4 linked regions of the Homo sapiens genome follow. The protein of the gene in region 2 purifies or fractionates together with the protein of the main gene of each other region. This does not show direct contact. Each region holds a gene or a part of one and is shown on either strand. Other genes may lie near its edges.

What was found.
Region 1: the proteins of CUL5 (region 2) and WSB1 purify together in Homo sapiens (affinity purification with mass spectrometry; 5 studies listed by BioGRID and IntAct, with this or other methods). This does not show direct contact.
Region 3: the proteins of CUL5 (region 2) and SPSB2 purify together in Homo sapiens (affinity purification with mass spectrometry; 6 studies listed by BioGRID and IntAct, with this or other methods). This does not show direct contact.
Region 4: the proteins of CUL5 (region 2) and PCMTD2 purify together in Homo sapiens (affinity purification with mass spectrometry; 5 studies listed by BioGRID and IntAct, with this or other methods). This does not show direct contact.

The regions. Positions count from the first base shown.
Region 1 is NC_000017.11:27,296,962-27,304,797, reverse strand, and holds part of WSB1 (WD repeat and SOCS box-containing protein 1), read right to left. Parts: intron 7,612-7,836; exon of another isoform or gene 7,490-7,611; intron 3,011-7,489; coding exon 2,842-3,010; intron 1,432-2,841; coding exon 1,163-1,431; intron 19-1,162; coding exon 1-18. UniProt on the Homo sapiens protein: Probable substrate-recognition component of a SCF-like ECS (Elongin-Cullin-SOCS-box protein) E3 ubiquitin ligase complex which mediates the ubiquitination and subsequent proteasomal degradation of target proteins.
Region 2 is NC_000011.10:108,088,590-108,096,425, forward strand, and holds part of CUL5 (cullin-5), read left to right. Parts: coding exon 1-70; intron 71-902; coding exon 903-1,034; intron 1,035-5,801; coding exon 5,802-5,925; intron 5,926-6,222; coding exon 6,223-6,398; intron 6,399-6,940; coding exon 6,941-7,102; intron 7,103-7,836. UniProt on the Homo sapiens protein: Core component of multiple cullin-5-RING E3 ubiquitin-protein ligase complexes (ECS complexes, also named CRL5 complexes), which mediate the ubiquitination and subsequent proteasomal degradation of target proteins.
Region 3 is NC_000012.12:6,869,818-6,877,353, forward strand, and holds SPSB2 (SPRY domain-containing SOCS box protein 2), read right to left. Parts: upstream 3,487-7,536; 5' UTR 3,429-3,486; exon of another isoform or gene 3,181-3,428; 5' UTR 3,085-3,180; coding exon 2,421-3,084; intron 1,503-2,420; coding exon 1,375-1,502; 3' UTR 1,118-1,374; downstream 1-1,117. Other genes in the region: TPI1 (triosephosphate isomerase), read left to right, coding at 232-319, 448-566. UniProt on the Homo sapiens protein: Substrate recognition component of a SCF-like ECS (Elongin BC-CUL2/5-SOCS-box protein) E3 ubiquitin-protein ligase complex which mediates the ubiquitination and subsequent proteasomal degradation of target proteins.
Region 4 is NC_000020.11:64,251,278-64,259,278, reverse strand, and holds the start of PCMTD2 (protein-L-isoaspartate O-methyltransferase domain-containing protein 2), read right to left. Parts: upstream 3,532-8,001; 5' UTR 3,409-3,531; intron 1-3,408. UniProt on the Homo sapiens protein: May act as a substrate recognition component of an ECS (Elongin BC-CUL5-SOCS-box protein) E3 ubiquitin ligase complex which mediates the ubiquitination and subsequent proteasomal degradation of target proteins.

The sequences.
Region 1 (7,836 bases), on a different chromosome or scaffold from region 2:
AGTTAAGGAGGAGTTTTCCTAAATATGATAGAAAAGGGAAAAAAAAGACAGTATTAATATATTTTTGTTTTGTTCTTATTTTTCTTGAGACAGGGTCTCACTCTGTCACTCAGGCTGGAGTGCAATGGCGTAATCTTGGCTCACTACAGCCTCGACCTCCTGGGTTCAAGCAATCCCCCTACCTCAGCCTCCGAAATAGTTGGAACTACAGTTACAAGTCACCACGGCTGGCCTTTTTTTTTTTTTTTTTTTTTTTTTTTTTGGAGAGATGGAGTCTCACTATGTTGCCCAGGCTGGTCTAAAACTCCTGGGCTCAAGTGATCCCCCAGCTTTGGCCTCCCAAAGTGCTGGAATTACAGGCATGAACTTTAAAATATAAAATCAAATTATTTCTTTGCTTGTTATTTCCCTGGCCTAGGAATGTTAAGCTCCTCAAAAGATACAAGTTATCCCACAACTTTAGTTTTCAAACATGATCCCAGTGAAAAAAAATGTATTTAACTAATAATGTAAGAGCTTTGTTTTCTAAGACAATCTATGTGTTCATCTTGTTTTTTTCAAGAACCCAAATTTTGACTCATTATCACCTATGTTAGTATCACTTGTTATGTTCTAATGTACATGTTCTTTTAATGCTTCTTTAAAAATCCTTTATGTTTTTGAGTACATATTATATGCCAGAAAGTGTTTTAGGCAATAAGCAACACATTTATTTCTAGTTGCCCAAAGAATTTAACTTCTCAATCTATCTAAACTTTCACTAAACCTTTCCAAGGTGAGATGATTACTGAAATCTGATTTACCTCGAAAACCTCTAAGCTATCAATCATTGAAAAAGCATAAACAAAGAAAACACCTTGACATGTGAGTCATTAACTAAATAACTAGTTTATAAAGGACAACTAACTAAACATTCCCTGGAAAACCCTTTCCTACTGTAATACTCTCTAAAGAGTGATGAAGCAATATGAACTCCATAGTTTTCCTAAATTAAAATCATGAGCTGAAGAAGGTGACATTCAGGTCTATTATAAAGACGCACCTATGCCATCAATTCTTGCTTTTCAGTAAGCTGAAATCCTCAAATCCCAATTCCAGTGCCTATAAGCAGTGCCCTGCATCATAAAATAATACATTTGCTTTAAAAACTATGAATCCATACCTGTATATACATCCCATATTTTGATACGCCCATTGTTCAACCCTGTAGCAAGAAGTAGCTGATCTTGTCCAAATCTGAAGCGATGCCATTCTATATTTACACAGCGACTCTGTTTTTCTGGAACTGATGACCCAAAAGCAAGACTCCAGACTATATCTCCACAGTCTATAATATGTTCACGAGGCTTATTTTTCTGACCACCATCACTATTTTGTCTTGGCAATCTTAAACTGCTTGAATTGGTAACATTCTTGGTGCCATGCAAGAGACTGGAGTGGGGGAAGTCAGATGGAAATTGTATTATTATTCACTCTGGACTCCTCTGGACATTGAATAATTACAAGTGTTTGTTAAAATAACCTCAATATTATTATAATGACACCAAATAACAATAGAATCCTATAGATAGGAAGGGAAAGGTTGATATTTGAACTACGAGAGAAGGACATTAATAGAAATTCTCAGTGACTGAGTAGTAAGTTCAACAATAAAGCAATTTATATTATAACTTATTTGCCTCCCAAATTTTCCTCAAAACCACCGAATCAACTGGTGCTCCTTCAACCTAAAAACACAAGTATAAATAAGCAAAAAACAAACAAACAAACAAAAAAACCCAGTAACTTAAGATATGGTCAAGCTGATATCAGAAAATTGCCTTAAAGGGGGAAAAAAATCCTCAAACCATAATGATCAGTTTCCCATAGGTTCCAGACCTCAAGTTATATGTAATGAGAACATTAGTGACTATAACCATGAAGGTCTGCTAGACACAAAAAAAACAGGGAAAGATCCAATATAGCACATGATACATTTTAGAAAAACTTTCAACAAACATCCAAACTCAATTTACCCCAAACAGAGGGACTATAAGTCCATTAAAAACAAAAACAACAACAACAACAACAAAGGGCCAGGCTCGGTGGCTCACGCCTGTAATCCCAGCACTTAGGGAGGCTGAGGAGGGTGGATCACCTAAAGTCAGGAGTTCGAGACCAGCCTGGCCAACACGGTGAAACCCCTGTCTCTACTACTATGCACCAGGGTTATCCAACAAAATGTAAAATCCAAAGTGAATCCAAAAAGCTTCACATCACAGAAGTCACCTACTCTGGCACAACACTATATATATATATACACTTGTTAGACACAATCTGACTTTTAACATACAGAAAAACTTAATGTATAAATAACACCAGACAATTCTTTTTTTTTTTTTTTTTTTGAGACATTATTTGGCTCTGTCACCCAGGCTGGAGTGCAGTGGTGCTATCTCGACTCACTACAACCTCCGGCTCCTGGGTTCAAGCAATTCTTCTGCCTCAGCCTCCCGAGTAGCTGGGACTACAGGTGTGCCACACCACGCCCAGCTAGTTCTTGTATTTTCAGTAGAGATGGGGTTTCACCATGTTGGCCAGGCGGGTATCAAACTCCTGACCTCAAGTGATCTGCCTGCCTTGGCCTCCCAAAGTGCTGGGATTATAGGCCTGAGCCGCCGCGCCCGGCCCAAAGAATTCTTTACACAAAATTTCCAATAAATATATTCAGCCCATGATTAAAACTCACGACATCATCTATAAAGTAAAACTTAAATATCAAAATGTTTTTATTACCCTACACTGAGAGAAAATGGTAAATTCCACAAACAGATACAAAATACAGAAAAGTAACAGTCTTACAAGTTCTGAAGGCACTGGGACCACGGAACAAGCTTTACTGTGCGATGTCCTTGTGACCAAGCAAAGTATGAACCATCTGGAGCAAAAGCAACAGTCCAATTTTCACGACCACATTTCTTGTCAAAAGGAGCTGCAGGAGCTAAAAGTTCACCTATAGTACGTAATCTCACTAAAAGGAAAAATAAAAATACTGGATATCATATATAACCAACAATACATGTGAGACTGCTTCCATATTACTTTGGGATTGAGTTTCTTCCCTCTTCTATGCAGACAGGGTATAGTGAGTTCTGCATTCCATCCTCTAACGGGGGGTATGCAGTATATGAAGACCCCTTAACGATAATGACTATCTCCAAGTTTTGATAAAGTGATTTCCCTAAAATTTCCCAATGCAAGAGTTTTTAAGAAAGTTTCCGTAAAAAAAACTGGTCAATAATAATGTAATGACCAATTAGACCTAACAATTACAAAAGTCCTAACTTTTGCATTGTATTACGTTCTCATCAAATTATTAACATTTAAAATGCAAGAAATTAAACTTAGTTGGCAGGAAAAGTATCTTCCAAATTAAGTTTCTTAGCTTTCAAAAACCATACCTCACCATAAAATACAATATTACACCATTACTCAAAGGAAAGCACTACAAAATACACTATCCAAACAAGTATTTTTACCCTTTTCAGGCCCAGGTCACAAAAATCACAAAACCCTCAGAACTAGAAGAGACTTACAGGTTGTCTAGTCCAACCCTCCAAACCAGTGCTTTAAAAAGGCATTATAGGCCGCGTGTGGTTGCTCACACCTGTAATCCCAACATTCTGGGAGGCCAAGACAAGCGGATCACTTGAGGTCTGGAGTTTGAGACCAGCCTGGCCAACATGGTTTGAAACCCTGTCTCTACTAAAAATACAAAAATTAGCTGGGCGTGGTGGTGGGCGCCTGTAATCCCAGGATGAAGCAGGAGAATTGCCTGAACCCAGGAGGCGGAAGTTGCAGTAAGCCAAGAAAGTGCCACTGCACCCCAGCCTGGGCGACAGAGTGAGACTCCATCTCAAAAAAAAAATAAGCTAAAATAAAAGAAAATGCATTATAGCCGGGCATGGTGGTATGCTGGAGTGTGTCTGTAATCCCAGCTTCTTGGAAGGCTGAAGCATAAGAACTGTTTGAATCTTGGAGGTGGAGACTGCAGTGAGCCAAGACTGCATCACTGCACTCCAGCCTGGGTGACAGAGCAAGACTGTCATAAAAAAAAAAAAACAAAAAAAACCAAAATGCATTATATTTGTGATTCTCAAATACTGGTCCTTAAGAGTCTTCCTAATAGGCCTCAAACTGACTCAAAAATGGAATTATTTTGGTTTTTAAGGACAAAAAATGGACAATGTCATATATTTTAAATTCAGATTACTCAAATTTTGTATTCCTAACAAAAATTGGCATATTACCAGAGTATATGGAGAATATTACTTCCATATTTAACAAAAAGCATGATCAACAAGCTCATACTGCAATGCATGCATGCAAACTCAGCTACAATTTCCTCAATTTGGGGAAAGGAGCCTCTTTATCAGTGTATCACCTATTTTGGGTTGGTCTTAATTTTCCCTATTACCTATTTTGTGGTCAGTTGTCTGGTCAATTGTACACTGTATAATAATATATTTTTATGTATTTCTGGTTTAAACTTTCCAACACCTAAGCTTTAATATATTCTATGTTATTGCTGTTCACATAAGAACCCCTTACACTGATATAGCTAGAGAACCTGGACATGGACACACCCACCCCCAAAATGTACTTCTTCAGCCTGAATGTATGCTCCATCAACAGCTAGTATAGCACCTGGCATATGACAGGTGCTCAGTAAATATTTACGGAATGAATATGAAAGCACACATTTATGCTCCCATTCTAAAGTGATTTAAATATGTTATCTGCCCAATTCTTGACACCTTAACAAATAGGTGTGGTTTAGAAAGCAAAAACAAAAAGCCTGAGACCTACTTTTCTATGATATTCATAATAAGGCTTACACTATTTTGGTGCAACTGAGACCGTTTTTAATGACTCAAAATCTTCCTCCTACCACTCTACCCACTCAGTACTGATTCTGACCTAAGAGAATAAGCCTGCTGCTATCCTCATATGGCATTTATATATTGAAGATAGCCATCAATGAATCTTTTTTACCAGGCTAAGAGATCTCTATCCTTTCAATCATACCTTAGATCACATGGTTTCAAGTCCATTTCCCATCCTAACTTCATCATACTTTTCTGGATAAATTCTAGTTAGTACTGGCCCTCATAAAAGTGGCACCCAGAACTAACCACAATACTTCAGGTGTGGTTTAATCAAAGCAGCAGAGTCCCCCACCCACCCCATATTAGCACAGCATAAGATGACATTAACTTTACTAGCCGTCACATAACTTTGTTTTTTTGAGTCAAGGTCTTGCTCTGTCATGCAGGCTGGAGCGCAGTAGCACAATAACTGCGCACTGTAGCCTTGAACTCCCAGGCTCAGGCGATCCTCCTGCCTCAGCCTCCCAAGTAGCTGGGACCACAGACATGCACCACTACACCCGGTTAATGTTTTTATTTTTGTAAAGGTAGGTGTTCCTTTTGTTGCCCAGGCTGGTCTCAAACTCCTGGGCTCAAGTGATCCTCCCACCTTCAGCCTCCCAAAGTACTGGGATTACAGATGTGAGCCACATAACTTTCTTAATACAAAATTCACAAACTTGGTGACCCTCAAATGCCTGCAGATACCTTTAACATACAAATGATTTCAGAAAGAGCATGCTGCTCCAGGTTTCCTTACAATTTTCCCAAACCTACAGCCTTATTTGTTCCTTTTACCAGGGTTCTTTATATGCCTGGCCTCTGAATTTGCAACCCCTGCCTGCTTAATTTTTTAGACAGGGTCTTGCTCTGTTGCCAAGGCTGGAGTGCAGAGGCAAACTCGTAGGCTTAAATGATCCTCCTGCCTCAACCTCCTGAGTAGCTGTAGCAGGGACTACGGGCACATGCCCCCACACTTGGCTAACTGAAAAAAACAAAAACAAAAAACAAACTTTTTTTTTTCCTTTTAAGACAGTCTTGCTCTGTCGCCCAGGCTGGAGTGCAGTGGCTTGATCTTGGCTCACTGTAACCTCCGCCTCCTGGGTTCAAGCAATTCTCCTGCCTCAGCCTCCCGAGTAGCTGGGATTACAGGCGTGCACCACCATGCCTGGCTAATTATTATTATTATTTTTTGTATTTTTAGTAGAGACGGGGTTTCACCATGTTGGCCAGGCTGGTCTCGAACTACTGACCTTGTGACCCGCCCGCCTCGGCCTCCCAAAGTGCTCAGATTAGAGGTGTGAGCCACCGCACCCGGCAAAAAAACAATTTTTTATAGACAGGGTCTTGCTATGTTACCCAGGCTGGTCTCCAGCTCCTGGCCTCAAACGATCCTCCCACCTTGGTTTCCCAAAGCGGTGAGATTAAGGCATGACCCACTGCATCAGGCACACTTTTTTTTTAACTTGGATTCCTGTTTAACCACATCTATCTTTGAAAACATTTTTAAAGCATTTTAAAAACATTTTACAAGCATTTTTAGGAGGAAAAAAATGCTAAGTTCACAAATAAGGGAAGCAAGTTTTAAAATTCAACTTAAAAGTCTCTATGGAGAATATTTATGTAACTTGTATACGAGGAACAGCCCTTGCATTCAATTTCAAGAACATCTAGTAAATGAGACTAAAATTAAGCTCTCCCTTAGCAAGCATAAGCAAGACTTAAATTTTTCATACGTGACTTTTTTTTTTTTTTTTTTTTTTTCTGAGACGGAGGCTTGCTCTGTTGCCCAGGCTGGAGTGCAGTGGCATGATCTCCGCTCACTACAACCTCTGCCTCCCGGGTTCAAGCAATTCTCCCTGCCTCAGCCTCCCGAGTAGCTTAGATTACAGGTATGCACCATCATGATGCCCACCACCACGCCCAGCTAACTTTTGTATATTTTAGCAGAGACGGAGTTTCACCATGTTGGCCAGGCTGGTCTTGAACTCCTGACCTCAGGTGATCTGCCCACCTCGGCCTCCCAAAGTGCTGGGATTACACGCATGAGCCACCGTGCCCAGCCTAGACTGTATTTTAAGGTTACTCTATATTTTTCTTCTACCTTGACCACAATCATGGAACTCCTTGTGTATAGTGGTAATAGGACAGGCACACTGGTAATCCCAACACTTTGGTAGGCCAAGGTGGATGGATCACTTGAGCCCATGAGTTTGAGACCAGCCTGGGATAGATAGGGGACCTCATCTCTACAAAAAATTTAAAAAATTAGCGAGTGTGGTGGCATGCACCTGTAGTACCAGGCTGAGGTGGGAGAATTGCTTGAGCCCAGGAGGCAGAGGTTGCAGAAAGCCAAGATTTCACAACCGCACTCCAGCTTGGGTGATAGAGCAAGACTCTGTCTAAAAAAAAAAAAAGAGTAGGCCGGGGGCAGTGGCTCACGCCTGTAATCCCAGCACTTTGGGAGGCCGAGGAGGGTGAATCACCTGAGGTCAGGAGTTCCAGACCAGCTTGGCTAACATGGTGAAACCCCCCATCTGTACTAAAAATACAAAAAATCAGCCAGGTGTGGTGGCACGAACCTGTAATCCCAGCTACTCGGGAGGGTGAGGCAGGAGAACTGCTTGATCCCGAGAGGTGGAGGTTGCAGTAAGCTGAGACTGCGCTACTGCACTCCAGCCTGGACGACGGAGCGAGACTCAGTCTCAAAGGAACAAAAAAAAAAGTAAAAGAGCGGTAACAATTACTAAAAAATTGGTTCAAATAGATAGCAAAGACAATGAAATAATAACATATTTATAACATAATTCTCAAATATATACAAACTCAAGAAATAGAGCCATTATAAAACCTACCAAATAAATGCATTAATCTGTTAAAATTTACTAATAATTGCCTTGTGTTTCTTTGCTGGATAACAGGTATATCA
Region 2 (7,836 bases):
GTTGCTAAGAAAAACACCATTAAGCAAAAAACTAACCTCTGAAGAGATTGAAGCAAAGCTTAAAGAAGTGGTACATGAATTTTTTGTATTTCAACTTTTAAAATTACCTTACTTTGAATTTGTGTTTTGCTTATAGGACTTTCTGTGATAGTATCAATTTAAAAATGTATTATCTGTAAAGAACTAATGTTACGAAGATTTGCAGTGCAAGACCTCTCGGGGGGTTATTTTTCTTTCTGAAAATTTTTATTCTACAGCTTCTTGAAAGGAATACCATTTAATTCCTCTCCTTTCTTGGTTATTTTTAGGAATTAAGTTCTAGCTACTAATACAGGACATATCATTCCAACAAATTTGGAATGATAGTTGACAGATTGGGAGTTTTTCACTCCTTCCTTTTTGTGAGAGTCCAAGATAGATAGCAAGGGATGAATGAGAGTAGATTAAGTAGTTGTTTTCATCTTTGTCACCCAGTTGTTAGTGTAATGATGTAAGCCCAGGAATACAAACAAGAAAAAAAATAAGATATTGGGCAAGTGTAGACAGAAAGGCCGAGAGAGATGACTAGTGTCAGAAAAAAAAGTGAAAAAGATAAGTAGAAGAGACACTTTGCAGGGGGACATTGATTTTTTTCATGTAAAGTATATCGTTGCATTTTATACAAAATCTAAAAAACTGATATTTAGACCGACTAACAATTTGGTTATAGTCTCAGTTTTGCTAACCTTTAAAGTAGTGTATCAGGACTGGGTATTTCTCAGAGATGGATAATTCAGTAGGCCTCTATCTGTATATGCTCATAAAAGTTTCTGACTTGTGACAATTGGTGGATATAGAAAGGTCTAAATTCGAGAGATGGTAAGAGTATATAAGAACTGAAAGTAACTTTATTTTTCATACAGCTCTTGGTACTTAAGTATGTACAGAACAAAGATGTTTTTATGAGGTATCATAAAGCTCATTTGACACGACGTCTTATATTAGACATCTCTGCCGATAGTGAAATTGAAGAAAACATGGTAGAGTGGCTAAGAGTAAGTAAATTTTTTTAAATATTTGGTTTTCTAATACATTACATCATTTATATGTGTGCTTAAGTAATACATTTTGGAGATATTGTTAATGTCAAAGAAGTAGGAAACATTTTATAAGAATATAGCGTCAGTTAGGCCGGGCGCACTGGCTCATACCTGTAATCCCAGCACTTTGGGAGGCCGAGGCAGGTGGATCACCTGAAGTCAGGAGTTCAAGACTAGCCTGACCAACATGGCAAAACCGCGTCTCTACTAAAAATACAAAAATTAGCTGGATGTGCTGGTGCACTCCGGTAATTCCAGCTGCTTGGGAGGCTGAGGCAAGAGAATCACTTGAACCCAGGAGGTGGAGGTTGCAGTGAGCCAAGATCGTGCCATTGCACTCCAGCCTGGGTAACAGAGTGGGACTCCATTTCAAAAAAAAAAGAATATACCATCAATTATATAAAATAAAGTGATATCTAATAAATGTTCTTAATACTTTCAGTAAAGTATCTTTGTTCTTGAGTTGTTTCTACTGTTTCACTCCCATTTGTACCTCAACTCTCATTTAAACTGACCTTATTAATAAATAGACTACAGGGGCTGGGCACGGTGGCTCACACCTATAATCCCAGCACTTTGGGAGGCCAAGGCAGGTGGATCACAAGGTCAGGAGATCGAGACCATCCTGGCTAACACAGTGAAACCCAGTCTCTATTAAAAATACAAAAAAATTAACGAGGCGTGGTGGTGGGGGGCCTGTAGTCCCAGCTACTTGGGAGGCTGAGGCAGGAGAATGGCATGAACCCTGGGGGGCGGAGCTTGCAGTGAGCTGAAATCGAGCCACTGAACTCCAGCCTGGGTGACAGAGCAAGACTCCATCTCAAGAAAAATAAAATAAATAAATAGACTGCAGGACAAATTATTATATCTTTAAGGTATTTTCAGTACTAAATGCTTAACTTTAGAGATGTTTATAAATGATAACAATAAATACTTCTGTATAGCAAAAAGAACCTTTAAATGATGGCCTATTTAGGGTAATCAATGCTGATTATAACTAAATTCCCATATAAAGTATTTTGAGTTCTTTTTTTGTTTTAATTATTAAAGTAAATATCTTTAATTTCTGTGTATGTATATAACTCTCTCCACATATATATGGAGAGAGAGAGAGTGCGAGCAAGCACACACGAGAGAGACCTACAGATATTTTAACTTATAGCTAGCCCTTCGCATGGAACTTTAGGATAGTAAAAATTACTGTGCTAACTGAAACTGCTTAGTAGGAAAAAGAATGATTATTCTGTGACTTTTTAAAACTATTGTCAAAAGACTCAAAACTCTTACTGTCACTTATAAGTATATAGGAAAAAGGGGAAAATAGCAAAACTAATACATATTTACTACGAGAAACCTTTAGAATTAAATTTTCTTTCTTTCTTTCTTTTTTTCTTTTTTTTGGAGATGTAGTCTTGCTGTGTTACCCAGGCTGGATTGCAGTGGTGCAATCTTGACTCACTGAAACCTCTGTCTCCCAGATTCAAGCAATTCTCCTGTCTCAGCCTCCTAAGTAGCTGGGACTACAGGTTTGTGCCATGACGCCTGGCTAATTTTTGTATTTTTAGTAGAGACACGGTTTTGCATGTTGGCCAGGCTGGTCTTGAAATCCTGGTCTTAAGTGATCCGCCTGCCTCGGCCTCCCAAAGTACTGAGATTACAGGCGTGAGCCACCACACCCGGCCTATGTTATTTCTTTGTTAAAAAAAAAATATCAAGACCCAACAGTAAAATGACAAACAAGGCTAGGCATGGTGGCTCACACCTGTAATCCCAGCACTTTGGGAGGCTGAGGAGGGCAGATGGCTTGTGCTCAGAGTTTGAGATGAGCCTGGGCAACGTGGTGAAACCCCATCTCTACAAAAATTTAAAAAATTAGCTGGGTGTGATGGCATGCACCTTAGTCCCAGCTGCTTGGGAGGCTGAGGTGGGAGGATCGCCTGAGCCTGTGAGGTGGAGGTTGCATTGAACAGAGATCTTACCACTGTACTCCTGCCTGAGCAACAGAGTCAGATCCTGTCTCTCTCACTCACACACACACACACACACACACACACACACACACACGACAAATAATTAAAAGCAGGCAAAGGATTCGAATTGACATCTCTTCACAGAAGATAGACAGATGGCCAATAAGTGCATGCAAAGATACTCAACATCATTAGTCATTAGTGAAATGCAAGTGAAATGCTCAACATGTTGGCTCCTGCTTATCCCAAATATTTTGAAAGGCTGAGGTGGGAGGATTGCATGAAGCCAGGAGTTAGAAACTACCCTGGGCAAAATAACAATACTCCATGTCTACAAAAAATACAGAAATCAGCTAGGCATGGTGATGTGTGCCTGTGGTTCTAGCTACTCAGGAGGCTGAGATGGGATGATTGCTTGAGCCCAGAAGTTCAAAGTTGTAATGAGCTGAGATTGTGCCACTGCACTGCAGCCTGGGCAACAGAGTGAGACCCTTTCTCAAAAACAAAAAAAACACAAAGAGATACTACTTTATTCCCACTAGGGTAGCTAAAATAAAGACAGATGATAACAAATGCTAGTAAGGAAGAGGAGAAATTGGAACCTTCGTAAGTTGCTAGTGGAGACATAAGATGGTGCAGACACTTTGGAAAACTGTTGGGCAGTTCCTTAAAATGTTGAACGTAGAGCTGACCCAGCAATTTCACTCTTAGGTAATTCATTTGAAGAGAAATGAAAACATGTTTCATGTAAAAACTTGTAAACAAATGTTCATGGCAAGATTACTAATAATAGTCAAAAAGTGGAAACAACCCAAAATGTCAGTGAGCTAATGAATAAAATGTGATTTATCCATACAATGGAATATTTTTTGTGATAAAAAGGAATAAACTAATAATACATGCTGCAATATTAGGTGAACTTTGAAAACATAATGCTGAGTGAAAGAAGCCAATCCCAAAGACCATATCGTATGATTCCACTAATGTGAAGTGTCCAGAATAGGCAAATCCACAAATTCCAGGAGTTGGGGCCAGGAGGGGAAATGACGAGTGACTGTAAATAGTATGGGGTTTCTTTTTGGGGTGATGAAAATGTTCTAAAATTAGATAGTGGTGATGGTTGCACAGTTCTGTAGATATACTAAACTTCATTACACTGTATATTTTATTTTTATTTTTATTTTTTATATTTTTTTGAGACAGAGTCTCACTTTGTTGCCCAGGCTGGAGTGCAGTGGTGCGATCTTGGCTCACTGCAACTTCTGCCACCCAGGTTCAAGCGATTTTCCTGCCTCAGCCTCCTGAGTAGCTGGGATTACAGGCGCATGCCACCATGCCCAGCTAATTTTTGTATTTTTAGCAGAGATGGGTTTCACCATGTTAGCCAGGCTGGTCTTGAACTCCTGACCTCAGGTGATCCACCCGCCTCAGCCTCCCAAAGTGCTGGGATTACAGGCATGAGCCCAGCCAAATTGTATACTTTAAAATAGTAGATTTTATGGTAGATAAATTATCTGACACAGTAAAGCTGTTAATAAAGAGTAGTTTGAATAGCTTTTGCCTTCTTGTGTAACTTGACAGAGTAAGCATCTTTTCTTTGCCTTGGAGAGTTGTCACACCCCCTGTAATTTGGATGATCTTCTAGCATTTTATCTTTTGGGCTGTCAGTGTCATGAAATACTGAGAATTCCTTTATAGCATTTTTGCCAGGATCACTTCTTCTAGGGTATCTTATCTTTTTTGTCACTCACCACTTTTATCTTTTATGTTGGTAATTTGCTTTCACTAAGTTCCTCAACACTGGCATTGTCAGCCTTACTACCACAGTCAGCTTTCTTCTATAACTCCATTTATGTTCTATTTTATTTTCATTTCCAGCATTATCACTTTTCATTTCCTGTTTACTTTTATATCTTTGCCAATTATCTTGTTTGATTATTCTTTTTTGTAAGTAGTCATGTGGGTTTATTACTGGAAGACAAGGATGCAATGAAACTGCATACTTTGCTGTCTGCAGTTTAACTGAATAAACAAATGACTAATAGGTTGTGTTTACATTTTTTAAAAATTTATTTATTTAATTTTTTCAAGCAACAGGATCTTCTGTTGCCCAGGCTGGAGCGCAGTGACACAATCAGAGCTTAAACTCCTGGGCTCAAGCAATCCACCCACCTCAGCCTTCCGAGTAGCTGGGACTATCTCGGCAGTATGCCGCCATATCCTGCTAACTTTTAAAATTTTTTTGTAGTGATGGGGGTGTCACTGTGTTGCCCAGGCTGGTCTTAAAATCCTGGCTTCAAGTGATCCTCCTGCTTCAGCCTCCCAAAGTGCTAGGATTACACACCATGCCAACTAATAGATTTTGAAAGAAGTATTGTGGTTAGTCATTGTTACTTTTGTCATGATTTGTGGATCAAAGAGCTAGAAATAAAGTTTTTACTTCATGCAGTTAAATTTATTATATAGTGTCAACTGAAAGTTGAGCTTTGTTCTTGGGGAATTGGTATTATTTAACTGTACTGTGGTAACTGAAATTCATACATACTAAAAATGCGCAAAGCAGGGACCCCTTGTAATACCGTATTTTGTTTCTAAGTAGCAAATTTCATAGGTATTAGACAATAAAATTCTAATAAATGAGAAAAATTTTGTATTAAAACATTTAAGACTTAGTTTTTCTATTAAAATTTTTCCCAGTAATATATCAGATTATGTATTTATTACCTCTTCCTTCTTTGGTTTATATTTATAGGAAGTTGGTATGCCAGCGGATTATGTAAACAAGCTTGCTAGAATGTTTCAGGACATAAAAGTATCTGAAGATTTGAACCAAGCTTTTAAGGAAATGCACAAAAATAATAAATTGGCATTACCAGGTATTATTTTATAATTACATGTATATATTTTTTAAACTTAGAAGAATATCTTTGTTTTCCAGTAAATTAAAAATAAACCTCAGCAGTAATAGATCGAAAGATGTTATGAAGTCCATTTCCGTGGAGACAGCTATCAAAGCAGTGTGTTAGATTTACAGATCTTTATTTCAAAACAAAAGGACACTTTTAACAAAATCTTTATAGTCTTATTGATTTTTCACCCAAAGTTACCCTGTATTTATTTTGAATTTTATCCATTGTTAATTTACTTTATATTCCTGATATTCTTCTCTATAGCTGATTCAGTTAATATAAAAATTCTGAATGCTGGCGCCTGGTCAAGAAGTTCTGAGAAAGTCTTTGTCTCACTTCCTACTGAACTGGAGGACTTGATACCGGAAGTAGAAGAATTCTACAAAAAAAATCATAGTGGTAGAAAATTACATTGGCATCATCTCATGTCAAATGGAATTGTAAGTAGATAGTGTGTTAGTTATTTCAGCTTTCAGTTTGGATGAAAGTAGCAGGACTCCGCAGAATTGCTTAAACAAAATAGATTTTTGCCTCTCTCACATGTAAAAGTTTGAGCAGAAATAGTGAATTTTTTTCATGAAGTTGATAGGGACATAGGCTTCTGGTTATACCATCATACTTAAGATACTGCCGTTGTCTACAGAATTCAACATGATCCCAACTATCTCAGTATTCCTGGCAACAGAAAGCAAAAGGTGAGGGTAGCTTACACCTTTCATTAGGGACAACTTCTAGAAGTTTCCTCTGTCATTTTCCATTTGCATCCGCCAGTACTCAGTCACTTGGCCACATTTTGTTACATGGAAAGCTGGGAGATGAGCGTGTATTCTGGGCAGTCATTAACGTCTTCTAAAATGTTTATTACTGTGAAAGAGTGGATACTGGAAGACAGCAACCTTTTTCATATATAAATTCATGTCATAGATATTAAGAGAGAATCATCATGAGATTCTTTATTAAAAATCTGTTTTATCTATTATAGATAACATTTAAGAATGAAGTTGGTCAATATGATTTGGAGGTAACCACGTTTCAGCTCGCTGTATTGTTTGCATGGAACCAAAGACCCAGAGAGAAAATCAGCTTTGAAAATCTTAAGCTTGCAACTGAACTCCCTGATGCTGAACTTAGGAGGACTTTATGGGTTGGTTTATGTTTTTTTGTTTTTAAGACTGTATCCTCTCATGTAGCAGGAAATATATGATTGGCTTGTAATATATTAGTAAATTCATAACAGTTTCAGAATGTCTTATCAAGAAAAATAGAGGCCGGGCACAGTGGATCACGCCTGTAATCCCAGCACTTTGGAAGGCCGAGGTGGGCAGATCACTTGAGGTCAGGAGTTCGAGACCAGCCTAGCCAACATAGTGAAACCCCATCTCTACTAAAAATACAAAAATTAGCTGGGCGTGGTGGTGGGCGCCTGTAATCCCAGCTACTTGGGAGGCTGAGGCAGGAGAATCGCTTGAATTCAGGAGGTAGAGGTTGCAGTGAGCCAAGATTGCGCCACTACACTCCAGCCCAGGCAACAGAGTGAGAACTCCGTCTGAAAAAAAAAAAAAATTATGCACACACACACACACACGAGATATTTATGGAAAAAATAAATTGCAAATAGGCAAGTTACCAAGGCAGAGAAAAGTGCTTCAAAAAAAAGGAGAGGCTGGGGCAGTGGCTCATGGCTGTAATCCCAGCACTTTGGGAGGCCAAGGTGGGAGAAGAGGATTGCTTGAACTCAGGAGTTTGAGACTAGCTAGGCAACATAGTGCAATCCCATCTCTAAAAAAAAAAAAAAAAAACAAATTAGCCAGCTTGGTGGCTGTATCCCCAGCTACTTGGAAGGCTGAGGTGGGAAGATTGCTTGAGCCCAGGAGGATG
Region 3 (7,536 bases), on a different chromosome or scaffold from region 2:
TAGGTTTGGACAGACACAGCCCACATGGGGCAACCCCTTATTTCAAAGACACAGAGACCTTGAACCCAGAGACAGTGACTTGTCCAAGGGCATCCAGTCCAGGGCCTGGCTTGGATCAGAGCCCTGGTACTCTGACTCAGTCAGAAACCACACTAAGTGTCCACTGGTGCCAGTGATTTTTCCTCTTAGAGAGGCAGAAAAGGTCTTACTTAGGCCAGCTTCTTGTTCTAGGCCCAGGAAGTACACGAGAAGCTCCGAGGATGGCTGAAGTCCAACGTCTCTGATGCGGTGGCTCAGAGCACCCGTATCATTTATGGAGGTGAGTGGCTTTGGTTCCCGGCTGAGGTGGAGTGGGCTGAGGACTAGACTGAGCCCTCGGACATGGAGGTGGGGATGGGGCAGACTCATCCCATTCTTGACCAAGCCCTTGTTCTGCTCCCTTCCCAGGCTCTGTGACTGGGGCAACCTGCAAGGAGCTGGCCAGCCAGCCTGATGTGGATGGCTTCCTTGTGGGTGGTGCTTCCCTCAAGCCCGAATTCGTGGACATCATCAATGCCAAACAATGAGCCCCATCCATCTTCCCTACCCTTCCTGCCAAGCCAGGGACTAAGCAGCCCAGAAGCCCAGTAACTGCCCTTTCCCTGCATATGCTTCTGATGGTGTCATCTGCTCCTTCCTGTGGCCTCATCCAAACTGTATCTTCCTTTACTGTTTATATCTTCACCCTGTAATGGTTGGGACCAGGCCAATCCCTTCTCCACTTACTATAATGGTTGGAACTAAACGTCACCAAGGTGGCTTCTCCTTGGCTGAGAGATGGAAGGCGTGGTGGGATTTGCTCCTGGGTTCCCTAGGCCCTAGTGAGGGCAGAAGAGAAACCATCCTCTCCCTTCTTACACCGTGAGGCCAAGATCCCCTCAGAAGGCAGGAGTGCTGCCCTCTCCCATGGTGCCCGTGCCTCTGTGCTGTGTATGTGAACCACCCATGTGAGGGAATAAACCTGGCACTAGGTCTTGTGGTTTGTCTGCCTTCACTGGACTTGCCCAGATAATCTTCCTTTTTGAGGCAGCTATATAAATGATCATTTGTGCAAGAAAAAAAAAAAAACAAGAACAGGTTTCTATAACAACATCTCTTACTATTTTTACTTGAAAAAATGTTTTGCGTAGCAGACTGTCATAGCCTTGAACGCCGGCTCCCTTTCTTCCTCCCTCCAAGTGGCTCTGGGGCTGTTGATTTCCGCAGAGCTTGGGTTGGGGTAGGGGCTCAGCCTCACCAGCTTTCAGCAGCTGGTCTAGGCCAGCAGTGCCTCCCCACCTCCCCAAGGGGAGGGGTGGTGGCAAGACCTCAGCACAGTCTGTGGTATCACAGGGCTCACTGGTAGAGCAGGTAGCGCTTCATGGCAGGGGGCAAGGGCAGGGCAGACACCTGGCCGAGCCGGGTATCCCCCAGGTTGTGGCGCACACACAGGCGGCTCAGGTGCAGAAGGGAGTGTGGCTCCGCTGGGAGAGAGAAGGAGGGGAATGTAAGTATGGGTGCAGCCACCAGCCAGATGTCCTCAAACTACGGGGTCCTACTCAGATGCCTTTCTGCTTTCCTGCTTCGAGTGTGCCCACCTGGCTGAAAGGGGAATTTGAGATACCCGGAAGTTCTGCCTCCCAGATAAGATTTCACACATCCCTAGTCAGAGCTGGGGGTGAAGAGCTGGCTAAGGCCCTCTAAACAACAGGCCAAGGTGGCTCTGACAGTGGTGGAGCTGGCCCAGGCTTTGACTCCAGAGGCTTGGGAGCTGGGGCTGAGGTGAGGAGGGATGGCCCTCCACTCTACAGCCCACACAACTGCAGAGAGCAGCTCCAAGCCCTGGACCCAGTCAGTTCCTGGGGAGGCTCCTCCCCTGCTGCCCCACCCTAAGGCCCTGCCTCCTCCACTGCTCTCCTCCCTGGTGCCCAGGGCCCCAGTGTCTCCATCCAGAGGTGTGGCTGAGGAAGGAAGTAGGTATGTGGCACAGAGACAGGTTAGAGCCCAGGGAATCCGGTATACAGCCTGGGTACCTGGCTCTGCCCATCCTTCTTTTGGACCTGTACATCAAACCCAGTACCTAACGCTTTGCACCTCTTGCTCAGGGGTTGATATCTCCTGAATTCTCTCATCCCTGCAGTTCCTCCCTCCATTCTGAAGGTTCACCATTTACTGGCCAAGAGAACTTGAGAAAGTTGCTTTCTCAAGCCTGTTTCACCTCTATTGCTGTTGGGTTAAATTAAATAACAGCTGTGAAGACCCCTAGCCTTTCCCAGCACTGAACAGAGGTTGAGGCAGGCTGGATGAAGGTCCATCCCCTCTGCTCTTGTCAGAAGAGTTTCCATCCCAAACCACTGCCACCAGGGACAGAAAGTTCTCCCCACGTCTGCCCCAGGCCTCACCTCTCCTTTCGCCCAGGTAGCGGATGCGGACCTGGCACTGGCCCCAGACAGCGCTTACTGCCGGATAGAGGGTCCTGCCCTTCAGTCCGCGGAATGCTGGCCCCAGGTAGGTGCCCCCAATAGCGTAGCCCAGAGTTCCCTCCTCCATGTCCAGAACCACCAGCAGTCTCTCTGGCACCTCCAGCTGCTCACCCTGAGTTCCCGCTGGATACTGGGGGGCTCCGGGCCCCTTGCTCTGATGGTACAGCTTCCCCCGCCCGATGTCCCAGCCCCACGACTCGCTGTTGCTGCCCAGCAGCGCCGCGTAGTGGTCAGTCTGCAGCGGGGCGAGGGCCGTGGCCACGCCCACCACGGCATGCGTGCCCCTCTGCTCTAGGGGCCAGCTGATCTCCCAGGCGTGCAGGCCCCTTGAATAGCCCCTCTTACCCCGGGCCCCATCAGTGCTCTGGGCCACGGGCCGCCGCTCAAAGTACAACCCTCCTTCCTTGACCTCGATGTTCTCTGAACAGTCTTTGGGGTTCCAACCGTGGCGCCGCTGGGCCCCCAGGTCAGGAGGGGGTGCAGACAGCAGCTCTTCCAAGCCCTCGGGACAGGAGAGGTCAGGGTACAGGGCCTGTGGCGTGGGGGTGCTGCTGCTGCCCCCTGCCAGAGCTGTCTGGCCCATGGAGGTGAGGAGCTAGAGGACTCCCCGAAAGAGGCTTGCTGGGGCGTCTTTCTCTTCTGAAAGTTGAGCTCCAGTTTGGATTGACCTGGAAGGGAGCTGGGAGAAAAGGGGCGTGAAGAGCAGAATCCTGGCGGGGGCTCGTCACCCAGGTACCCCATCCTTTCACCCAAGTTTGCCAACGGGCCCGCTCCTCCCTCCTCGCTGCCCCAAAGCTCCTGGGCCCTTCATCTGCCCTCGCCCCATCTGATCCAGGTCGCCAGAGACTCTCGCGAGTTCGCCCCATTTGGGCCTCAGCATGGACCATCCCCCTTACTCGCCCGGAGCCCTCGCCGCTGCCCCCGAACCTCGGTTGACTTCCCAGCCCTGGAGGTCGCCGGGCCTCTGAAGGAGCCGGGCGGAAAGAAGCCGAGGCGCGCAGGGCGCAGACCGCCGGCCGCTTCCGCCCCCAGCTCCTCCCTTGGGCCGAGCCCGTCCCGCGGCCCCGCCCCTCCAGGGCCCTCTGGGGCTTAACCCTCTCATCGCCGCCCACGGCCGTGCAGCTCCGAGGCCACGCCCCTGTGGGGCCCCGCCCCCTCCTGGGCAGTTACCGCTCTATACCGGCAGCAGCCGCGGAGAGCATGCCCCGCCCCCGTGGAGCCCACCCCGGGCGGTTAACCTCGGGTCTCAGTCCCGGGCTGTGACCCTCCCCGAGGCCCCGCCCCCACGGCGAAGGCCCGGGGCAGTTAACCCTTCTCTTGCTGCGGCAGAGTCCGCACCCGGGCAGGCCCATCTCAGAATTAACGCTTTGATGGCATCACCGCGTCGGGAATCCCTGGGGATGGTGTTCTCCACCGTCAAGACCTTTGAGCCGCCTGAGCGACTAACTCCTGCGCCCCTGAGGGTAAGGAGCATGGGGTCAAGGAGGGGCTTCATTGTGCCGAATCCCATTTCTACTTCCCTGTGATTCTGGGTCACTGTTTCTGGGCTGGTCCCTTTCTGCCCCGGGTTGTGAGTCAGCCTGTGCCACCTCTGAGGCTGTGAAATCTGCTTCAGGCTCTAGGCTGTACGCATCATAGTTCTCCCTGCTGGTCCAGTCTTCATACTGGATGCCAATCCATTACTGAGCCGTTGATCTCATTTGGTAGAGTGTCCTGATTAAGACTTCGAGTTTGAGTGAAGCTATGCCACTAGTTAACTGCGCGATCTTGGGGAAGTTGCCCGATTTCTCTTTTTTTTTTTTTTGAGACAGGGTCTTGCTGTCACCAAGGCTAGAGTGCAGTGGCGCCATCACAGCCCACTGCAGCCTTGACCTCCTGGGCTCAAGTGATCCTCCTACCTCAGCCTCCCAAGTAGCTGGGACTACAGGCATGTGCTACCACACCCAGCTAATTTTTAAAAAAATATTTTTATTTTTATTTTTATTTTTTTCGAGACAGAGTCTTGCTCTTGTTGCCCAGGCTGGAGTGCAGCGGCACGATCTCGGCTCTCTGTAACCTCCATCTCCCAGGTTCAGGGGATTCTCCTGCCTCAGCCTCCTGAGTAGCTGGGATTACAGGCACCTGCCACCACGCCTAGCTATTTTTTGTATTTTTAGTAGACACAGGGTTTTGCCATGTTGGCCAGGCTGGTCTAGAACTCCTGACCTTGTGATCTGCCTGCCTTAGCCTCCCAAAGTGCTGAGATTACAGGTGTGAGCCACCACGTCCGGCCAAAAAAAAATTTTTTTTAGAGACAGGGTCTCCCAAAGTGCTGGGATTTCAGGCATGAGCCACTACGCCCAGCCCCAGATTTCTGTAGTTTTCTGTTATGTAAAATAGGAGCAATGATGGTAGTTACCTCACAGGGTTGTTGTGCAGTTGAAATAATCCAGGTAAAGCATGTAGCACAGAGCTGGGTACATAGTAGTCACTCACCAAGCATAGCTGTCAATGTGCTTAATGAGTGCCGACACTATAAGGAGGCAATATAATATAATGGCAAACATGCCAGCTGTGGGACCAGACTCCCCGGGCATGAATACCTGAAGGCCAGTGTGTGTATGACCTTGGGCAAATTACTGAACCTCCCTGTGCCTGTTTCTTCCTCTGTAAGACAGAGATCACATTAGTATCTATTGCATGGGGTTGGTAGTGAGAATCCAATGAGGTTATAGATGTAACACATTTGGAAGAGTTTCTGGTTCGCATTTAATGATTTGTGCTAAGCACTGGAGATTAAGCAGTGAATCCTTAAGGAGGTTACAAAGACTTTTATAAAATAATGTATCATGTAGTAATAGTAAATAAAATTATGGAGATATAAAGAAAGTACTATAGGAGTAAAAAGAATAGGACTCCTATCCGGGGTTCAAGCAGTTAGGAAAGGAGCATCTCCAAAAGAGGTTCACACCTGGGCTGAATCTTTTCATGTCCTAGAAGAGGTTCACACCTTCACACTGGGCTGAATCTTTCTCTTTTTTTTTTTGAGACGGAGTCTAAGCTCTGATGCCTAGGCTGGAGTGCAGTGGCGTGATCTCAGCTCACCTCTGCCTCCTGGGGTCAAGTGATTCTCCTGCCTCAGCCTCCCAAGTAGCTGGGACTACAAGCGTGCACCACCATGCCTGGCTAATTTTTGTATTTTTAGTAGAGACAGGGTTTCACTATGTTGCCCAGGCTGGCCTCGAACTCCTGACCTCGTGATCTGCCCGCCTCGGCCTCCCAAAGTGCTGGGGTTACCGGCATGAGCCACCGCGCCCAGCCTGGGCTGAATCTAAAAGGATGACCAGGAATTGGCCTGAGACGAGCCACTTCTCTGCAGTATGGAGGTTGGGTTACGGTTGCTGCATGTAGAAGATATTCCAGACAGAAGAGTCCGCATGAAAAAAAGCAAGAAGCAGCAGGTGGGTTTGGGGAAGTACGATATCTTCAAGGTTGCTACAGCCAGAAAGGAAGCATGAGAAGGGCCAGATAAGTAGACAGCAAGTCACAGAGGCCTTCTAGGCTGAGTTAAGGAATGCAAATGTTTTCCCATAGGACAGGCCAGTGATGGGGAGCCACTGTAGGATAGAAGAAGAGAGGAACATGGTCAGATAGGCATTTGATTTATTTATATATTTTGAGCCAGGGTCTCACTTTGTCACCCAGGCTGGAGTGGAGTAGCGTGATCACGACTCATGGCAGCCACAACCTCCTGAGCTCCGCTGATCCTCCTACCTCAGCCTCCTGAGTAGCTGGGACTACAGGTGCATACCGCCATGCCGAGCTAATTTATTTTTATTTTTTTAATTTACAAATTATTATTTCTTAATTTTTAAAATAGAGACAGAGTCTCAGTCTGTTGCCCAGGCTGGTCTCGAACTCCTGAGTCAAGCGATCCTCCTGCCTCAGCATCCCAAAGTACTGGGATTACAGGCGTGAGCCACTGTGCCTGGCCAGATCTGCATTTTAGAAAAACCACCCTGGCAGCAACATAGAGGAGCTTCAAGGGAAATAGAACTGGAAGTTGGCTGGGCGCGATGGCTCACACCTGTAATCCCAGCACTTTGGAAGGCTGAGATGGGCGAATCACCTGAGGTTTGGAGTTCGAGACCAGCCTGGCCAACATGGAGAAACCCTGTCTCTACTAAAAATACAAAATTAGCCGGGCATGGTGGAGCATGCCTGTAATCCCAGCTACTCAGGAGGTTGAGGCAGGAGAATTGCTTGAACCTGGGAGGTGGAGGTTGCGGTGAGCCGAGATCACGCCATTGCACTCCAGCCTGGGCAACAAGAGTGAAACTCTGTCTCAAAAAAAAAAAAAAAAAAGGACTGGAAGCAAAGACACCATTTCCAGCAGCCCAGGTGACAAGTGTCAACAGCCTGAAATAGGACAGTAGAAATAAGGATGAAAATAATTCAAGAAACACTGATGAAACGGCAAGATTTGGTGACTGATTAGATATGGAGTTGAGGCTGGGCACAGTGGCTCACGCCTGTAATCCCAGCACTTTGGGAGGCCGAGGCAGGCGGATCACCTGAGGTTGGGAGTTTGAGACCAGCCTGGCCAACATGGTGAAACCCTGTCTCTACTAAAAATACAAAAATTAGCTGTGTGTGGTGGTGGGCACCTGTAATCCCAGCTACTTCGGAGGGTGAAGCAGGAGAATTGCTTGAACCAGGGAGGTGGAGGCTGCAGTGAGCCGAGATGGCGCTACCGCACTCCAGCCTGGGCGACAGAGCAAGACTCCATCTCAAAAAAAAAAAAAAAAAAAAAAGAGAAAGGGAAGTTTCTAGCCTGGAAAAATTGATTGGAAGGTGGTGCCACCAATCAAGATGGAGATGACAGAAAGAGGAGTAATTGAGGGCAGGGGCAGGAGGGTGGGAGAGGGAGATGGTGAGTTCAGTTTAGGATATGTTTTTGAGGTGTCTGAGCCACAAGCAAATGGAACCATCCAGAACACACAAGAAAATGGCAGGTCTGGAGGCAGAATGAGAGGCCTGGGCTGGAGACAGGGAT
Region 4 (8,001 bases), on a different chromosome or scaffold from region 2:
TGATTTGGATATTTTGATGTTCAAATTTTAGACAAAAACAGCAAGAAAACACTCTTCCCAAATTGAACGTACTGTGACAAATACCTTTTTCTAACAAATGCAAAATCAGCTTCCTGGCTAAAGTTTAAGTGTAGGAGGGGCTGCTACCAGAACTTCCTACAGCCCCTCCTCAATTGCATGATACGCAGCTTTCCCAGCTCTTTAAAAATAACAACTACTTGTCTTACCTTCTCCCAACCTGCCTTCAAGAAGAAAAAGCACAGCATGTGTCACCTCTGAGCCTAACTATTAAAATACAGGGTAGCTTCAGCTAATTCACAAGAAAACACTTTTTCACGCGGAGAAGTCTTACTCTTCTTAAAACTACAAAAATATCCTTTCCAATTTTATACTTACCCCATGTAACTTTTTCAAAGTAACTGCTTTAACTTCATATAAAATGGTAATGCTTTACAAAACACCAGATACAAATTGTCAGGGAAAAAGACCACCAGACCTCATGAAGACATTTTCTGAAATGAACACAACCTTTTTAACAACTTGTTATAATTATGATGAAGTTTATACTTGCTTTCCTCCTCACATTCCTCTGGATTTCTAACAGTAGAATGAGGATCGTAAAGAAATACTGTGGGGTGACAAGGGGCCTGGGGCGGATTTCATACACACCCACGTACACAACTGGAGACAGCGGTGGGAGGTTTTCCCAGGAATGAAAATAATCACATAGTTTCTTACAAGTGAACAAAAAGTGTGAAGGGTATAGCTTAACACAAATTCTCTTCTATTTTTATGGTGGAACACTCAATCTTCACACTCAAGATTTTAGAGCTGAATATTAGGTTTTGCAAATCAATAGGATGGTCCAGTCATTAAATTTTCACACCCTTTTTGAATTTTTTGAATTGTTTCGGAGCCCTTGTTAGATTACGGTCCACAGCCAGCTGACTTAGACTTAGATGGAATTAAGTCCTAATGAGGTCAACTTTAATCCTGGATAAGCCACTCAGTTCTGAGGCTGCACCCTAGCCTACCACAGTCATCTTAAAATTTGGGTCAGTGGTTAAAAGCGGAATCATGTGTTTGGATGCTTAAGGGTCTATTTAGGAAAAGAGCTGGAAAATCGCATACCGTCCTCAGTCAAAGCCACCTCTTCACCCAGAAGCCTGTATATAATGTTCCAACATTGTCTCAATGCCACATCTCTAGAAGGTAACCTCAAACTGTATGTTGGATAGGTTTCATTTTCCACTAAGTAACTATCACTTATTTTGAACTCTGCCTTAATTTGAAAGTTCAGACAGCTTTTTAGTAAAAACAAGCACCTTTTTCCAGGTACCACCTGCCAGTCATGGCCTCATTTACACTTCACAACATTAAGAAGCAAATTGGAGCTGGCCGGTTAATTTGTTCATGATCACATAGCCAGTTTGTGAGGAGGGGGCTGCATTCAAACCCAGGACTGTATGGCAAAAGGCCTGTGTTTTTAATACCACACCAGTGCAGCTTTTAAAAATACTCAAGACAGCAACGTTCTTTACCACACAACACACCGGTAACCTTTTGACGATGGGGTAACCCTATCTATACCTATTGCCACTGGTAGGATCCATGTGAATAGCTGTGGGGTCTGATATTTATTACCATCTTTGTCTGGTAATCTAACACTCCCTCGCACTGAAAACCATCGATATGATCAGTCATGATGTCACCAAAAACACCGACAACAAAGCTCTTCGCCAAACCAAATCCTATCATTTTCACCCAGATTCTACAATCTGGTCAAATCCAATTTTTCAAAGTAAAAGTGTAGAATCATTTTTAGAACGCTGCACTCGATGATACTGTGCACATTGTCTGCTGTAATTAATCCTTAATATAATTCACTACTCTGTGGTAACTAGCAACAGTCCATAACAACCTGGCTGCTCCTTACAATGCGAACTGCCAGGGCACATGAAGAACACTTGCTGAGTGGCGACAGGCATGGGAAGGTCTCAGAACTGACACCTGAGTTGTGATTGTGGCTGTGTCAACACAAGCATGAAGCTATGGTAGTGGGGTTTTGGGAGGCGACATACGGAAGATCACATTCCAACTTGGATGTCACTTCTTTAGGGTAATATGGACAAAGTAATTCATTGTGGAAGATGAGTGGGGAAAAGGACCCAAAGCCACATCTCCTTTGGGCAGAATGATCAAACAAACACACAAACAGATTTCTCACCTTGAAAACCAGAACTCTTACAAGCAATGCAAAGGGACTTTTTTCAAATACAGATGGTCTCCGACTTCGGATGGTTCGACTTCAGGTTTAACGATGTGTTTACTGGGATGCGACCCCACCGTAAGCCGGGGAGCACCTATACTTGAAAGGCTGTCACATGTACACTATTAATGGGCCTAACAAAAGCCAGACCAGTGGTACATGTTGGAGACAATGCCTACTAAATACACAGAGAAGCTTTCTAACAAATGAAGTTGCAATGAATGAAAGGAGCTCTTGATAAGCCCAGCCAAGTTCCACTGGAGGTACGAGCTGGGGTGGCGCAGGGAGCAAGGCCCTGGATCGGTCACCTCTGAGGTCTCCTCTCATCACCTGAGTGTAGGGCTCTATTTCCCCCAAGCGTGGCCACAACAATTTCTGAGTTGCTTATAGGCACCTCAACTTCACTCATTCTTGAATGACAGTCTATCAAACGCCCAGATAGGAGCTGTTTAGCCATTCCCTTGAGAAGAAAAATGAAAACTATTCTAGTCACACGAGTAAAGAGGGGGTGGATAAAGAGGGCGTGGATATTTAGGTGACTTATTTGAGGTGCAACGCTGGAGCAAACATTCATTTAGGAGACACGTCCCTCTCACAAAAACAAAACAAAGGCCCGAAGCTCAGGCAAGTTCTCCTTCCTCCAACTAACAAAGATCTCTTTCCATGCGTGAATTGAAGTCCCAGTGCTCTGCTCCAATTCTTACTATCTCCAAGGCACGGGGCGGGGGGGCGCAATTATTTTTTTAAAAAATCCTGTCATCTTCTGAAAGGGTCCAAGGCAGACTTTGTTCTAAACCTTAGCTCTTGGCTTGCCTTGGAACTGCAAACGTTTCCCACTTGGGAAGTCAAAGACAAGCTGCAGGTCTGGACTAACCAGACCCAAGAGTGTGAGTGAGCAACGGGCACCGGGAGAGACCGACGGGAAACCGCGAGCGCTCGGAGAGAGAAACGCGGGACGCCCTGGAGGCCGCTGGGGGGAGGTGAGGGTGCCCGAGGTGGGGAGGAGCGACGCCCCCAGAGGAGAGCTCCGGGCGCAGGGGTGCCGGGGGTGGGGAAGGAGGAGGGAAGGGGCCGAGGGGACACACCACCCGCTCGCCGCAGGCCGGACCGAGGGGCGGCGGCGGCGGCGGCGGCTCTACCTCCAGGCTCGGCCGGCCGACGGGTTCGGACCGCCTGGGCTGCCACCTGCAGCTCCTCGGGCGCGTCCCTCGTGTGTCCGCGGCCGAGCAGCGCCGCTCCAACCTCGGCCGCCGTAAACATCCGCCGCCGCCGCCGCCGCCGCCGCCTCTGCGCCTGCGCACAACGGCCTGACTGCGCATGCGCCGCGGGCCTGGCACTTAAAGGGGTGATGGCGGCGCAGGGCGGGCCCCACTCCCCTGGGCTGCCTGCGTCCGCCCGCCCCGCTGAGAGCTCGCTGAGCCCTAGGCCGGGTCCGAGTCTCGCGGGCGCGCCGTCCGCGCAGTGCTCAGCCAGGACGGACCCCGCACGGGCTGCCTCAGAAGCCCTCCCTAAGGGTCACCTGAGACGCCTTTGCTGACCCACGGCTGGGGGCGTTCCGCATCTCCAGGGTGCCCTGCGGCTGCTGACTCGGGGCCGGCGCTGCCCTCGGGCGGCCTCCCAGCACCAAGCACAGCCGCCCTGGGACCCCCGCCCTGCCACGCGGACGGCCACCCGGCCCTGGGGCCCTCCTACCCAGCCGGCTTTGTGAAATCAGCTGTGAAAGGAAGATATCCTGGGCCCCCAAGATCACTAAGGAAAACTCCAGCAGGAAACTGCTTAGGGCAGGCCTGCTTCCCATTCCATTCAAAGTCACTCCTCTGCTCACTTAGATAGATACATATCTGATTTGCCTCCTTTGAAAAGGCAAATGAGAAACTCAAAAGAATTTAACCGTTGGTGTCTCACCTATCTGTGGCCTGGACGCTCCCTCCCCGCTTGGAGTCTTCCTGCCTTTGCTTCAAGTTGTCCCGTCTTTCCAGACCGAACCGATGTGCTTCTTACATGTATCGATGGATGTATCCTGTCTCCCTAAATGTATAAAACCAAGCTGTGCCCCGACCACCTTGGGCACATGTCAGGACTTCCTGAGGCTGTGTCACGGGCGCGTCCTCACCCTTGGCAAAATAAACTTTGTAAATTAACTGAGACCTGTCTCCCATTTTCTGGGTTCACACAGCCCATTGCCCAAACTTCGCGTGGGGCTTTGCAGATAGGCTGTAGCTGCAGAACCCTTTCTTCAAGCACAGCCATGCAAGCCGCCTCATATGTGCAAGTGCCAGCGTCGCTGGGGCGGACGAGTGGGCCTGGGTCTCCGGTTCCCGCCTCCCTCCTAACTCGGCATTCCTCCCCAGACCCTGGAGCTCCACTTAGGAGCAGAGTTTGAAAACCAAAGGCCGGTGCCTTCACCACGTTATGTGGTCCCAGGGAGACCTCACTTCTCTTGTTGATCCATGGTCCTGGATCCACGGACCTGAGGTGGCCCACCACCTCATGACCTTCATGGGGCTCTCAGTGTCCTTCCACCTGAGAGCTTGTGGTTATTTGTGACTGTTTCAAATTACAGAAGCCCTGGAGTCATCCTTGACTCTCTTCCTACTGCCAGGGGACACGTCCTCCATACATCCCTCCTTGCCCTGTCCCAGCTCCCCTCACCTCTCCCCACCCCTCCCACCATTCCCCTGGGCTCTGGCGAGTGGTCCTCCTAAAACAGGTGATCACATCACTGCTGTCTTCAGACACTCCCTTTGTTCCTGGACCCAACTGAGGGTCGGGCTACTACTTCTCCTGGCCCAATAACAAGATGCAAATGAGCTGGAGAGTAAGAGAGGTTTTATTTCTGTAACCGGTTACAAGGAGAAGGCCTGGAAATTATCACCATACCAACTCAAAATTACAAAGTTTTCCAAAGCTCGTATACCTTCTAAGCTGTATGTCTACATGTAAGTGTGCATTCATCTACAGACATAAGTGATTAACTTCTTTTAATCTATGACTAAGGTTGAGTCCTGAAGACCCTCTTCTGGAGCCTCAGTAAGTTTACTTAATCTAAATGGGTCTAGGTGCTGGGGTGATTACCCTTATCTTGTCTCCTGCTAAATCATAATGATATGGGGAATTCCTTTAGACCCCCATAAACTTGTTTGTGGAGGCCTGGGGAGTTTCTTCAGATCCCTAATACAACTTGTTTAATCCTAAAAAGGGTCCTGTTAAGAGTTCCTTCGTTATCTTGTCATGCTTCAAGGCCCAGGAAGAGCCTAGGCAAAACTCTTGGTGGGCTCTTTGTTACATTCCAACCTTTGTATAAGGGCATTGGCTCAATCAGCTTTTAATGTTTAACCTGGCTACTCAGTCCGTGCTGGGACAGCTGTAATGGAGGCCTGCGTTAGTGAGACCCGGCCTGCCACAACTTCAGACTCTTGCTTGGTTTTCCAAGGTGTCTCCACCATTCCCCTCCACATCAGCTTCCACTACCATCAGCATTCATAACCCTTCACAGGGTATATACTGAGCACTCTACATGGGTTATTTCCATGAAATAGGTACTAGTATGACCTCCAAGAAGAAAAGTGGACCGTGACATCAGGAGCTGGCCTGGCACTCAGATCGAGGCCATGGGGTCTCCTGTTGGACATAAATAATTTTGTAGAGGAGCACCATCATGATCCAAGGCCACGTCATAATTTTGTCTAAGCACAAACAAAAACAGGGTAACTGTGCCACCCACAAAATCTAAGACATATCATCTCCAAGTTAGTAACAATGACCCCCGCTCCTCTACCAGCTACAGCTGAGCCTCCCTCTGCCCTGGCCTCCTCACAGATAACATCTACTGAGATGCCCAGAGAACCACCCTTTCCCCCCATCCACTCCCCCAATTCCTGACAGCATCTAATCCATGAAAAAAATCACCCAACTCAAGCCCATAACCTTTAGTAACTTTTCCCGACACCTCTTACTGAGATGCCTTGCAGTTCTCCATGATCTGCATCCCTCTCGCTGCAATGAGTGATAATCCCAACTCATTCAATTACAGGCAGGTTCCTGGCAGCCTTTGGCTTGACGACACTGATACCTCCATTTTACAGATGAGGGAACTGAAACTGCAAGAGGTTCGCTGGCTTCTTGTACTTACCAGCTAGTAGTAAGCACAGGAAGGTGGATGGGAATCCAACTGCTGCTGTCACCCTCCTCCAGGCTTCTCCCACACCCAGCCACGGGGAGCTTTCTGAGTATGTCTTCAGTGTCCCCTCGCCTATCCCCTTGCATCTCTCCACTCATCTGTGTTGTATCTGCAGGAGGAGCCTCGGACGGAGGGAAGGTCATGCAAGGGCCTGAGGCAGGGGTGCGGCTGGGTATCTGGGGAGCAAGTAGCTAGAGCCACATGTGGGAGGTTGTGTTGTTGTCTTCGAAATACACTATTCTTACTATGGTAAAGTATACAAAACATTTATCATTTGAACCATTTTTAAGTGTACATGAAGTACATTTACACTATTGTGCAACCTCACTACTATCCAGCTCCACATTTTTTTCATCATGCCTAACTGCAACTCCATACCCATTCGTGTTAAAAATTCTCACCCAGCTGGCTGAGCACAGTGGCTCACACCTGTCATCCCAGCACTTTGGGAGGCCGAGGCGGGCGGATCACGAGGTCAGGAGATTGAGACCATCCTGACCAACATGGCGAAACCCCGTCTCCACTAAAAATACAAACATTAGCCGGTCATGGTGGCACATGCCTGTAATCCCAGCTACTTGGGAGGCTGAGGCAGGAGAATAGTTTAAACCAGGGAGTCGGCGGTTGCAGTGAGCCGAGATCGCACCACTGCACTCCAGCCTGGGCGACAGAGTGAGACTCCATCTCAAAAAAAAAAAAAAAAAAATTCTCACCCAGCTAGTAATAGAGAGAGGGGCATTTCCTCAACTTGATAAAGAACATCTACAGAAAACCAACAGCTAATATCATACTTAATGGTGAGAAAGTGGACCCTTTCTCCTTAAGATCAGGAACAAGGCAGGAATGTCCCCTCTCACTACTTCTGTTCAACATCATATAGAAGTCCTAGCTGATGCAATAAGACTTGAAAATAAGGGTTACAGATTTAGAAGGAAGAAATAAAACTGTCTTTTTGCACAGGTGGTAAGATTAACTGTGTATTATACCCTGAAGAATCTCCAATAAAACTCCAGAAACTAATAACTGACTACAGCAAGGTTGCTGGATACAGCAGTCCCCCCCCTTATCCTTAGGGGATATGTTCTAAGACACTGTTGGGGATATGTACCAAACTCTATAGTACATATAGGAATGCTTGAAACCAGGGATGGAATCAAACCCTATATATACTATGTTTTTTCCTACATATGGATCATCTATGATAAAGTTTAATTTATAAATTAGGCATAGCAAGAGATTAACAACAATAACTAATAATAAAATCGAACAACTATAACAATATATTGTAATAAAAGTTACATGAGTGTGGTCTCTCTGTTAGCTACTAAGTGATTAATGGGCAGGTAGTGTATATGGCATGGATATGCTGAACAGAAAGGTGGCACACGTACTGGGTAGCATGGAGCAGGACGGCACGAGATTTCATCACACTACTCAGAATAGCACATGATTTACAATTTATGAATTATTTCTGTAATTTTCCAATTAATGTTTTTGAATTGTGGTTGACTGCAGGTAACTGAAACCATGGAAAGCAAAACCACAGATGGGG